Linked DNA regions of Homo sapiens. Changing the gene in region 2 together with the main gene of any one other region gives a genetic interaction. Each region holds a gene or a part of one and is shown on either strand. Other genes may lie near its edges.

The links.
Region 1: changes in TM4SF1 (region 2) and CSK are lethal when combined (synthetic lethality), as found in Homo sapiens cells (one large-scale study listed by BioGRID).

Annotation. Positions count from the first base shown.
Region 1 is NC_000015.10:74,795,509-74,799,320, forward strand, and holds part of CSK (tyrosine-protein kinase CSK), read left to right. Parts: intron 1-2,703; exon of another isoform or gene 2,704-2,724; 5' UTR 2,725-2,789; coding exon 2,790-2,804; intron 2,805-3,106; coding exon 3,107-3,220; intron 3,221-3,317; coding exon 3,318-3,430; intron 3,431-3,763; coding exon 3,764-3,812. UniProt on the Homo sapiens protein: Non-receptor tyrosine-protein kinase that plays an important role in the regulation of cell growth, differentiation, migration and immune response.
Region 2 is NC_000003.12:149,374,826-149,379,315, forward strand, and holds the start of TM4SF1 (transmembrane 4 L6 family member 1), read right to left. Parts: upstream 2,825-4,490; 5' UTR 2,723-2,824; coding exon 2,546-2,722; intron 945-2,545; coding exon 855-944; intron 764-854; coding exon 618-763; intron 1-617.

The DNA.
Region 1 (3,812 bases), on a different chromosome or scaffold from region 2:
GCCCTTTCTCACCCTCAGTTTCCTCACCCGTAGAAAGGAAACAGTAGTTCCAGCCCCTCTGCTTCCTGAGACAGGTCCAAGGGGGCTCTGGGCTGGGATTACAAAGTATGTGTGTGCAGACGGGTGGGTTGCTGCTCTCAGGGAATGGGGTTGGCTAGGGTAGCTTTTTTGGGGAGTCAACTTTATTGAAGTAAATATACGGTTGACCCTTGAACAACACAGGGGTTGAGGGCATCAACCTCCTCCCTGCAGTCAAAAAATCATATATTAACTTTTGACTCCTCAAAAACTTAACTACTAATAGCCTATTGTTGTCAGAAAGCCTTGTAGATAAAGTTGATTGACACTCATTTTGTTTGTTATATATATTATATACTGTATTCTTACAATAAAGTAAGCTAGTGAAAATAAAATAAGAAAATCATATGGCCGGGTGCAGTGGCTCACACCTGTAATCTCAGCACATTGGGAGGCTGGGGCAGGCGGATCACTTGAGGCCAGGAGTTCAAGACCAGCATGGCCAATATGGTGAAACCCTGTATCTACTAAAAATACAAAAATTGGTCTGCTGTGTTGGCGCACGCCTATGATCCCAGCTACTCAGGTGGTCAAGGCATGAGAATCACTTGAACCTGGGAGGCGGAGGTAGTTGCAGTAAGCCGTGAGTCACCCCACCACTGCGTTCCAGCCTGGGCGACAGAGTCTTGCTGTCTCAAAAAAAAAAAGAAAGAAAATCATAAGGAAGAGGAAATATATCTACTATTCTTTAAGTCGAAGGGGATCATTATGAAGGTCTTCATCCTTCACATTGAGTAGGCTGAGGAGGAAGAGGAAGAGTTGGTCTTGCCGTCACAGAGGTGGCAGAGGTGGAGGCGGAGGAGGTGGAAAGGAAGGCAGAAAAGGCAGGCACACTCAGTGTAACTTACTGAAAAACATCCAGCCACGTGTGGTGGCGCATGCCTGTGGTAATCGCTACTTAGGAGGCTGAGGCAGGAGGATTGGCTGAACCCAGGGGTTTGAGGCTGCTGTGAGCTATGATCACGTCACTGCACTCCTGCCTGGGCAACAGAGTGAGACCCTTTCTCAAAAAAAAAAAAAAAAGAAAAGAAAAAGAAAAAATCCATGTGTAACTGGACCTGCGCAGTTCAGACCCGAGTTGTTCAAGTGTGCACTATACACCAAAAAGTGTGCCGATCGCAATGGTACAGCTCAGTGAATTGTCACAGAGTGGACCCACTTCATGATTGGGCTCAGACAGTCTGAAAACCAACCCCAGAGGTCCCCTTGCATTCCTTCCAGTCTCCCTGTCCCAAGAGCAGCTATCCTGACAGCATGGATTAGTTTGGCCAGATTTTGAACTTTATTCAAATGGAATTACATAATATGTACTTTCCTGTGTCTGGCTTCTTGGTTAACATTTTATTTATTTATTTATTTATTCATTCATTTAGAGGCAGGGTCTCACTCTGTCGCCCAGGCTGGAGTGCAGTGGTGTGACCTTGGCTCACTGTAGCCTTGACCTCCCCAGGCTCAAGCGATCCTCCCACCTCAGCCTCCTGAGTAGCTGGGAGTACAAGCACGCAGTACCACCCCCGGCTAATTTTTGTATCTTTAGTAGAGACCGGGTTTCGCCATGTTGCCGAGACTGGTCTTGAACTCCTCCTGGGTTTAAGCCATCTGTCTGCCTCAGCTTCCCAAAGTGCTGAGATTACAGGTGTGAGCCACTGTGCCTAGCCATCATTATGTTTTGAAATTTATCGGGATTGGCCAGGCACGGTGACTGGCACCTGTAATCCCAGCATTTTGGGAGGCCGAGGTGGGTGGATCACCTGAGGTCAGGAGTTCGAGACCAGCCTGGCCAACATGGTGAAACCCCATCTCTACTGAAAATACAAAAATTAGCTGGTTGTGGTGGTGCATGCCTGTAATCCCAGCTACTCAGGAGGTGGAGGTTGCAATGAGCCGAGATTGTGCTACTGCACTCCAGCCTGGGTGACAGAGCCAGACTCCATCTCAAAAAAAGAAAAGAAAAGAAATTCATCAGTGTTATTTAATGGTTGGAGTTTGTGTTGGAGTTTATTTAATGGTTGGTGTTTACTGCTGTACGTAGTCCCTTTTGTGAATATGCCACTGTTTATCCATTTTCCTCTGGATCGGCATCTGGGCAGCTCCCAGTTTGAGGTTTATTACAAAGCATGCCACTTGTAGCCCTCCTGTGCCTGTCTAGGCAGACACATGTCCTGTGTCCTCTCGGTGTGTACCTAGAAGTGGGGTTGGTATATGTTTAGAGATGCTACCTGGGCGGGATTTTGCAGGTGAAGGACCCAAGGACCCACAGAGCATAAGGGACTTTCTCAGATCACATAGCCCCTTCTCAGAGCTGCTCCGGGGCCCCTTTCCCCACAGAACAGTAGCTGGAACCAGGCCTGGGGCTGACGGTCAGGTGTCCATTGTCCCACTAGCCCCCTTTGCTCCTTTCTATCAGTCCTGGAAGGCCCCCTGTGGCCTTAGGGTTGGTGGCTCCCTCTGCCCCTGGGGGTCCTCAGCCCTCATGCTCCTCTACCCAGTACCGTCAGCCTGCCAGGACTGGAGAGAATGGCCCATGTGTCAAATCCCAGCGCAGGACACTCTTGGCACCTGTTCATGCCCAGTGAGGAGCCAGATCTCAGCAGTTGGGGGGCATTTCTTCACACCCCTCCTCAGTCTTCATGCTCTTCCCCACAGCTCTAATGGTACCAAGTGACAGGTTGGCTTTACTGTGACTCGGGGACGCCAGAGCTCCTGAGAAGATGTCAGCAATACAGGTACCACAGGGGTGAGGGTCTGGGACATGCAAGCATTCCCACCAGCCCCAGCGGGGTGCTTAGCAGAGGAGAGAGGATGCAGCTTAGATCAACCCACTCCCCTTTTTCCCAGCACTCAGTCAGGTACAGGCCTGGGGAAGTGGGGGAGTCTCAACAGGAAGGGACCCAGGGCTCGTTCTCCGGGCAGAGCACCTCACCCAGGCTCACAGAGGCCAGCTCAGAGGCTGTGACCACGAGGGTGCGCCAGCAGGTGGCTGGAGGGGGCCCAGGCTGCACCCGCCCACGTGTCACCTGCCTTGCAGGCCGCCTGGCCATCCGGTACAGAATGTATTGCCAAGTACAACTTCCACGGCACTGCCGAGCAGGACCTGCCCTTCTGCAAAGGAGACGTGCTCACCATTGTGGCCGTCACCAAGGTAATCAGGTGACGCCCACCCCACCATCCCACTGCTGGGCCTTCCCTCTGCAGGGGGAGGTGGGCCTGAGAGCATGTCTGGGCTGCCCTCTCCCCAGGACCCCAACTGGTACAAAGCCAAAAACAAGGTGGGCCGTGAGGGCATCATCCCAGCCAACTACGTCCAGAAGCGGGAGGGCGTGAAGGCGGGTACCAAACTCAGCCTCATGCCGTGAGTACCACGAGGAGGGGTTGGGGAGGGAAGGGGCCTTGGTCCTCCTGAAGGAGCATCAGGAGCAAGCAGGGAGGCCAGAGTGAGGGGCTTGGGTGTTGGGGAGGGCCTCAGGAGGAGGTGCAGGGTGCGGGTGCGGGACCTCACAGAGCAGGGCTGGGGGCAGAGGCAGGAGGGTGGCAAAGAAGGGACAGGGAGCAGAAGAAGAGGGCCTCAAATGCCTGACTGAGCGAGTGCGAGCCACGGGTGCCAAGCAGAGGGAACCCCTTCAGAAAGGGGAGCCAGGGTCAGTACCTTTGGGCCACCATGACCTCCAGCCCTGCTGCTCCCCAGTTGGTTCCACGGCAAGATCACACGGGAGCAGGCTGAGCGGCTTCTGTAC
Region 2 (4,490 bases):
ACTTTCTTATAAAGTAGTAAAATGTATTACACTTAATCAGGCAATTGTTCTGGTATAATGTATGAAGTAATTGAGATGCACTATATGAACACAAACTCTACATCTAGACTGCCTGGGTTCAAATGCTAACTGCCACTTTCTGGCAACGTGACCTTGGATGAATTACTCCATCTCTCTGTGATTTTGTTTCCTCATCTTTAAAATAGGAAGTCACTTCATAGGGTTATTATAAGGACTGAATTATTGAATCTATTCAAAAGCACTCTGTATTTGGGAAGCTGAGGAAGGGGTATTGCTTGAGCTCAGGAGTTAGAGGCTGCAGTAAGCTATGATTGTGCCACTGCATTCTAGCCTGGGTGACAGATCAAGACCCTGTCTCTGGGGGAAAAAAAAAGAAAGAAAGAAAAGAAAAGAAGCATTTAGAATTTGTTTAGGTCGGGGACTGGGGATCCATCCTTGGATACCTATTGCCTAAACCATGCCTGAGTCAGTGAGAATAAACACTGGCTAGGTGGGTGGATGGATGGATAAGTGGATGCCTATCTGGTTTGATAGAGCTGCCACTATATACATGTGGTGGATAAAAATGTGTAGCCATGTAGAGAGTAATTACATACTGGCCCTCAGTGCTGGCAAAGGTGTAGTTCCACTGGCCGAGGGAATCAAGACATAGTGGTCCTTCTGCTAAGCCAAGGGCTGCCACAATGACACAGTAGCCAGATCCTGCAATTCCAATGAGAGCAGCCAATACAGAAGAAAGCATCTAGGGAAAAGCAGACACACAGGAAGTGAGCCACAGAGTGCCACAGCTACATCTTAGGAGTCATTTTCACCACCAGGGCAGGAGGACCTACCGCACATCGTTTGCCACAGTTTTCATGGCCACAGCAGCCACAGCAGTCATCCTGTTCCAGCCCAATGAAGACAAATGCTGGCAGGAGCATCTGGTTAGGAAACAAACAAAGTCAGGTCATTGTCTTGCTCAGGCTCATATGGGTCAGGTTAGGCATCTCTTGGTAAAATATATTTATTTCCAATGACATTAACTGGCTTTGATTAGGTTGACCAGATATCTCAAAGAATGTAAACCTCTGAGGAGAAAAAGACCATTTAAATGTCATATCTGCTTGTTTTCATGTAATCTGTCAAAGCATTTTTTAGGGTGAGGATGTAACATGGGAGGAGTAAAATAATAAACTGTAAACGTGTTTATTCCACAAGAGTTTATCACACGACCCCAGATAACAAACTCTGTTTTGGAAATATTAAACCCTTTCTTTAAATCTGATTTTTTCCACTTGTAAAATGCAGAATATACCAACAAATCTTTAATAGAATAACTGAAACTTTTTTGTAAATGGGAGACATGAAAGCTATATATAATAAATATTAACTGCTTCCTTGATTATACAAATGCATAGTTTTAACTTAACAATATTAAGCTCTTAAAATATAGTAAATATGAAATACTTCAGGTTCAAGATCGAAAGAAACTTAAGTGTGATGTTATGTTTAAGACAAATAATCATGTTAACATGATAATAATGCTTAAATTTGAGGCAGACGGGCACTGTGGCTCATGCCTGTAATCCCAGCACTTTGGGAGGCCAAGGTAGGAGGGTCACTTGGGCCCATGAGTTCAAGACCAGCCTGGGCAACATGGCGAAACCCCGTCTCATTAAATAAAATAAAATTAAATAAAATCTCATTAAATAAATAATTTAGGGCAGATTTGCCATGCCATAATCAGTGTATTAGGTTTAAATGTTTTACTATCTTTTACTTGATTAAGAAAATTTATCACGTATGGTACCATTCCATAAAATTTCTCCTTAAAATTTTTAATCCCAGCACTTTAAAGTAGCAAACTTAAGTTTGCTCACATTCTTTCCATGCTGTGGTTGAAGCTAATGCTTTCAGCTCCCAGGTTGGCAGGGAAATTCCTCTCACTTCAATCAAAAACAATTCTTGGAAAAAATAACACATTCCACTATTAGCTTCAGACACCGACCTGCTGCTAACTGTAGGGTTTTTCCTAGACGCCACACCCCAGCCTTACATAAAGGAGAAAGCTTAGAGTTCTTTTAAAATAGCAATGCACTCACAATTCATTATTTTTCCCTATCACAGATGGCTGAAAATAAACAGCAGAGAATTTGGATTCAAAACTGTTGATTTAGGCAGAGAACCAGCCAACCCCTTCCGGCTCCCCAGAGCAAATGTTAAATGACTGCCCGTTCTAGTAGAAACTCTATAGTCTCTCAAATCTGATTTAAAAGCGAATATCTGTTTCCTACCTATAGAGTTTAGCAAAAAGGCAGTTCACTTTTAGTTGAAAGAGCATTTTGTAAAACAACATCTCATAAAATTACTACGCTATACTGTACCAATCTCGCTTTTGTATAATCTGCTTTCAAAGGAATGAACAGCAACAAAAAAGTCACTTGATTTAGAAATATGCATTACAAAAAACTTTCCATGAAAATACATAATGAAAACATCTAGGAAACAGGAGAGAATTCAGTAATAATCCTGAATGACTTACCAGCAGGCCACCTCCTACGATGCCAGAAAAGAACCACACGAAGCGGCTGAGGTGGTTTTCGGAGGCATACTTTGTTTCCCCATTGGGAAAGTAAAGCAAAATATTAGCCGCGATGCACAGGAGGGCGAGCCCCACCAGAGAATGTCCGATGCATCGTGCACACTTCCCATAGCACATGGTGGTCTGCTAGGTTTTCTCCCCCTTCTCTTTGTCTTCAGCTCAGTGATACCCCAAATTAGATGAAAGTGTGCCCTTCTGGTGGAGAAAGCAAACACCACTCTCAGCCCATTCCTGCTACCTCTTAAATACTGCGATTCTTAGTCACTGAGGGGATGAGGTACTTTGCTTTCATTGGTCCTAATGGCAGGCTCTGGCTGTGGTGCGAAGAGGCAGGGGGAATGTCCCGCCCTTCAGACGAAATCCTTGGGACAGGCAAAACCAGGGGCAGGATGTGAGAAACAGCCTCAGTCATAGGCAACAGGGAAAATGATTAATCTTGAACAAGGCATTGACTGTGCAACTCCTCCACAAGATAAAGAATCAACAGGAAAGCCTAACATGACTTTCCAGTAACTGCCAAGTGTCCGAGATGCAACAGCCCTGGTTGAGGCTTTGAAAGACAGTGAGCTGTGCCCCTGCTCCATGCAGCTGTCTGGACAGCTTCCAATCTGAGAGCTCTGTGTTCATTTCTACCTTTGTGCTGATTTAATTTACAACCTGGGGCAAATCTCCTGAGCTCATTTCCTTGTCTATTAAATACAAGGTGTCTGAGACGTCTCCCATGGATTTGAGAAGGCTGTTGGGAAAACTACAGAGCAAACTTCTTTACTCTGCCTACAGCAAGCTCTGCAGGATGGATTTCAGTGTTCAGCGTCCCTGGACATCTGCCTCTAAAACAAATCTGCACCACAACAGAGGTGGCATCAGTCAACACAAAGGGCTCAGGTGCTTTTTAAAAATTATTGAGTGTTGCTGTCAGGAAAAGCAATGCCAGGAAGGGCCAAGGAAGGCCTAAAGCATGGGACAAAAATAAAAAGAGGAAGAAGAGAGGGGGAGGAAGAGAATGGGAGAGAAGGAAAGAGGAAAGGAGGAAGGAAGAGAGGAAGGAAAGAAGAGAAGGAGGGAGAGAAGGAGAGAGGGAAAAAGGGAGGAAGGGAGGGAGGGAGGAAGGAAGGAAGGAAAAAAGGAAGGAAGGATGGGGGGAGGGAAGGAAGGAGGGAGAGGGAGAAAAAAATAAGACAAAGGGACTTGGCAAGCAGAGTGGAGAAACAAGGTTCAGAGAAACAGAACTGGCTAGGAGTGTCAGAACCCACACAGAGGTAAACAGATGGTTTACCCAGCCAGATCCTGAGACCAGCTTCCACAGGCTCCCCACACAGGGCAGAGAAAGGGTGTTAGACTAACTTTCTAGGTGGTTACCTTGCAGAAGGAGGGGCTGGGCACTGAATAAATTTATGCCTTGAACAGCAGATTGCACCAGCCAGTGGATGGTGGTGGGAGGTGGACAGGGTGGCCGGGTGGGGCCAGGCCTGGAGGGCCTTGTCACCAGGACAAGATAGAGAGTACAGAAAATAGAAAAGGACCAAGGTAGGGAGGCATTAGCTTAGAAGAAGAAGGTGAATGAGGTTCACGAATCTAGAGTCTGAAGGATTTGGCCCGGAACTAGAGGGCGGGACACATACCAAATTTGAGGAGACCAGCTGTGGTTAGTGATGTGGCATGGGACCGGAGGAGGGCCCAAGAAGTGTGGCCTCAGCACACTAACAGGGGTGAAGCCAGAATCCAGGATGGCCTGAGGAAATAAATCAGTGGAGTTGGGAAGCGTGGAACCACCCACCTGCTCAGGCGGAGGCAGGCAAATCCTCATAAGAGTGTCATTGGGTCACCACTATGTGTCCAACAACAGGGAACGTGTGTTTGGCCCGATGGCTTAGAGACAGGATTC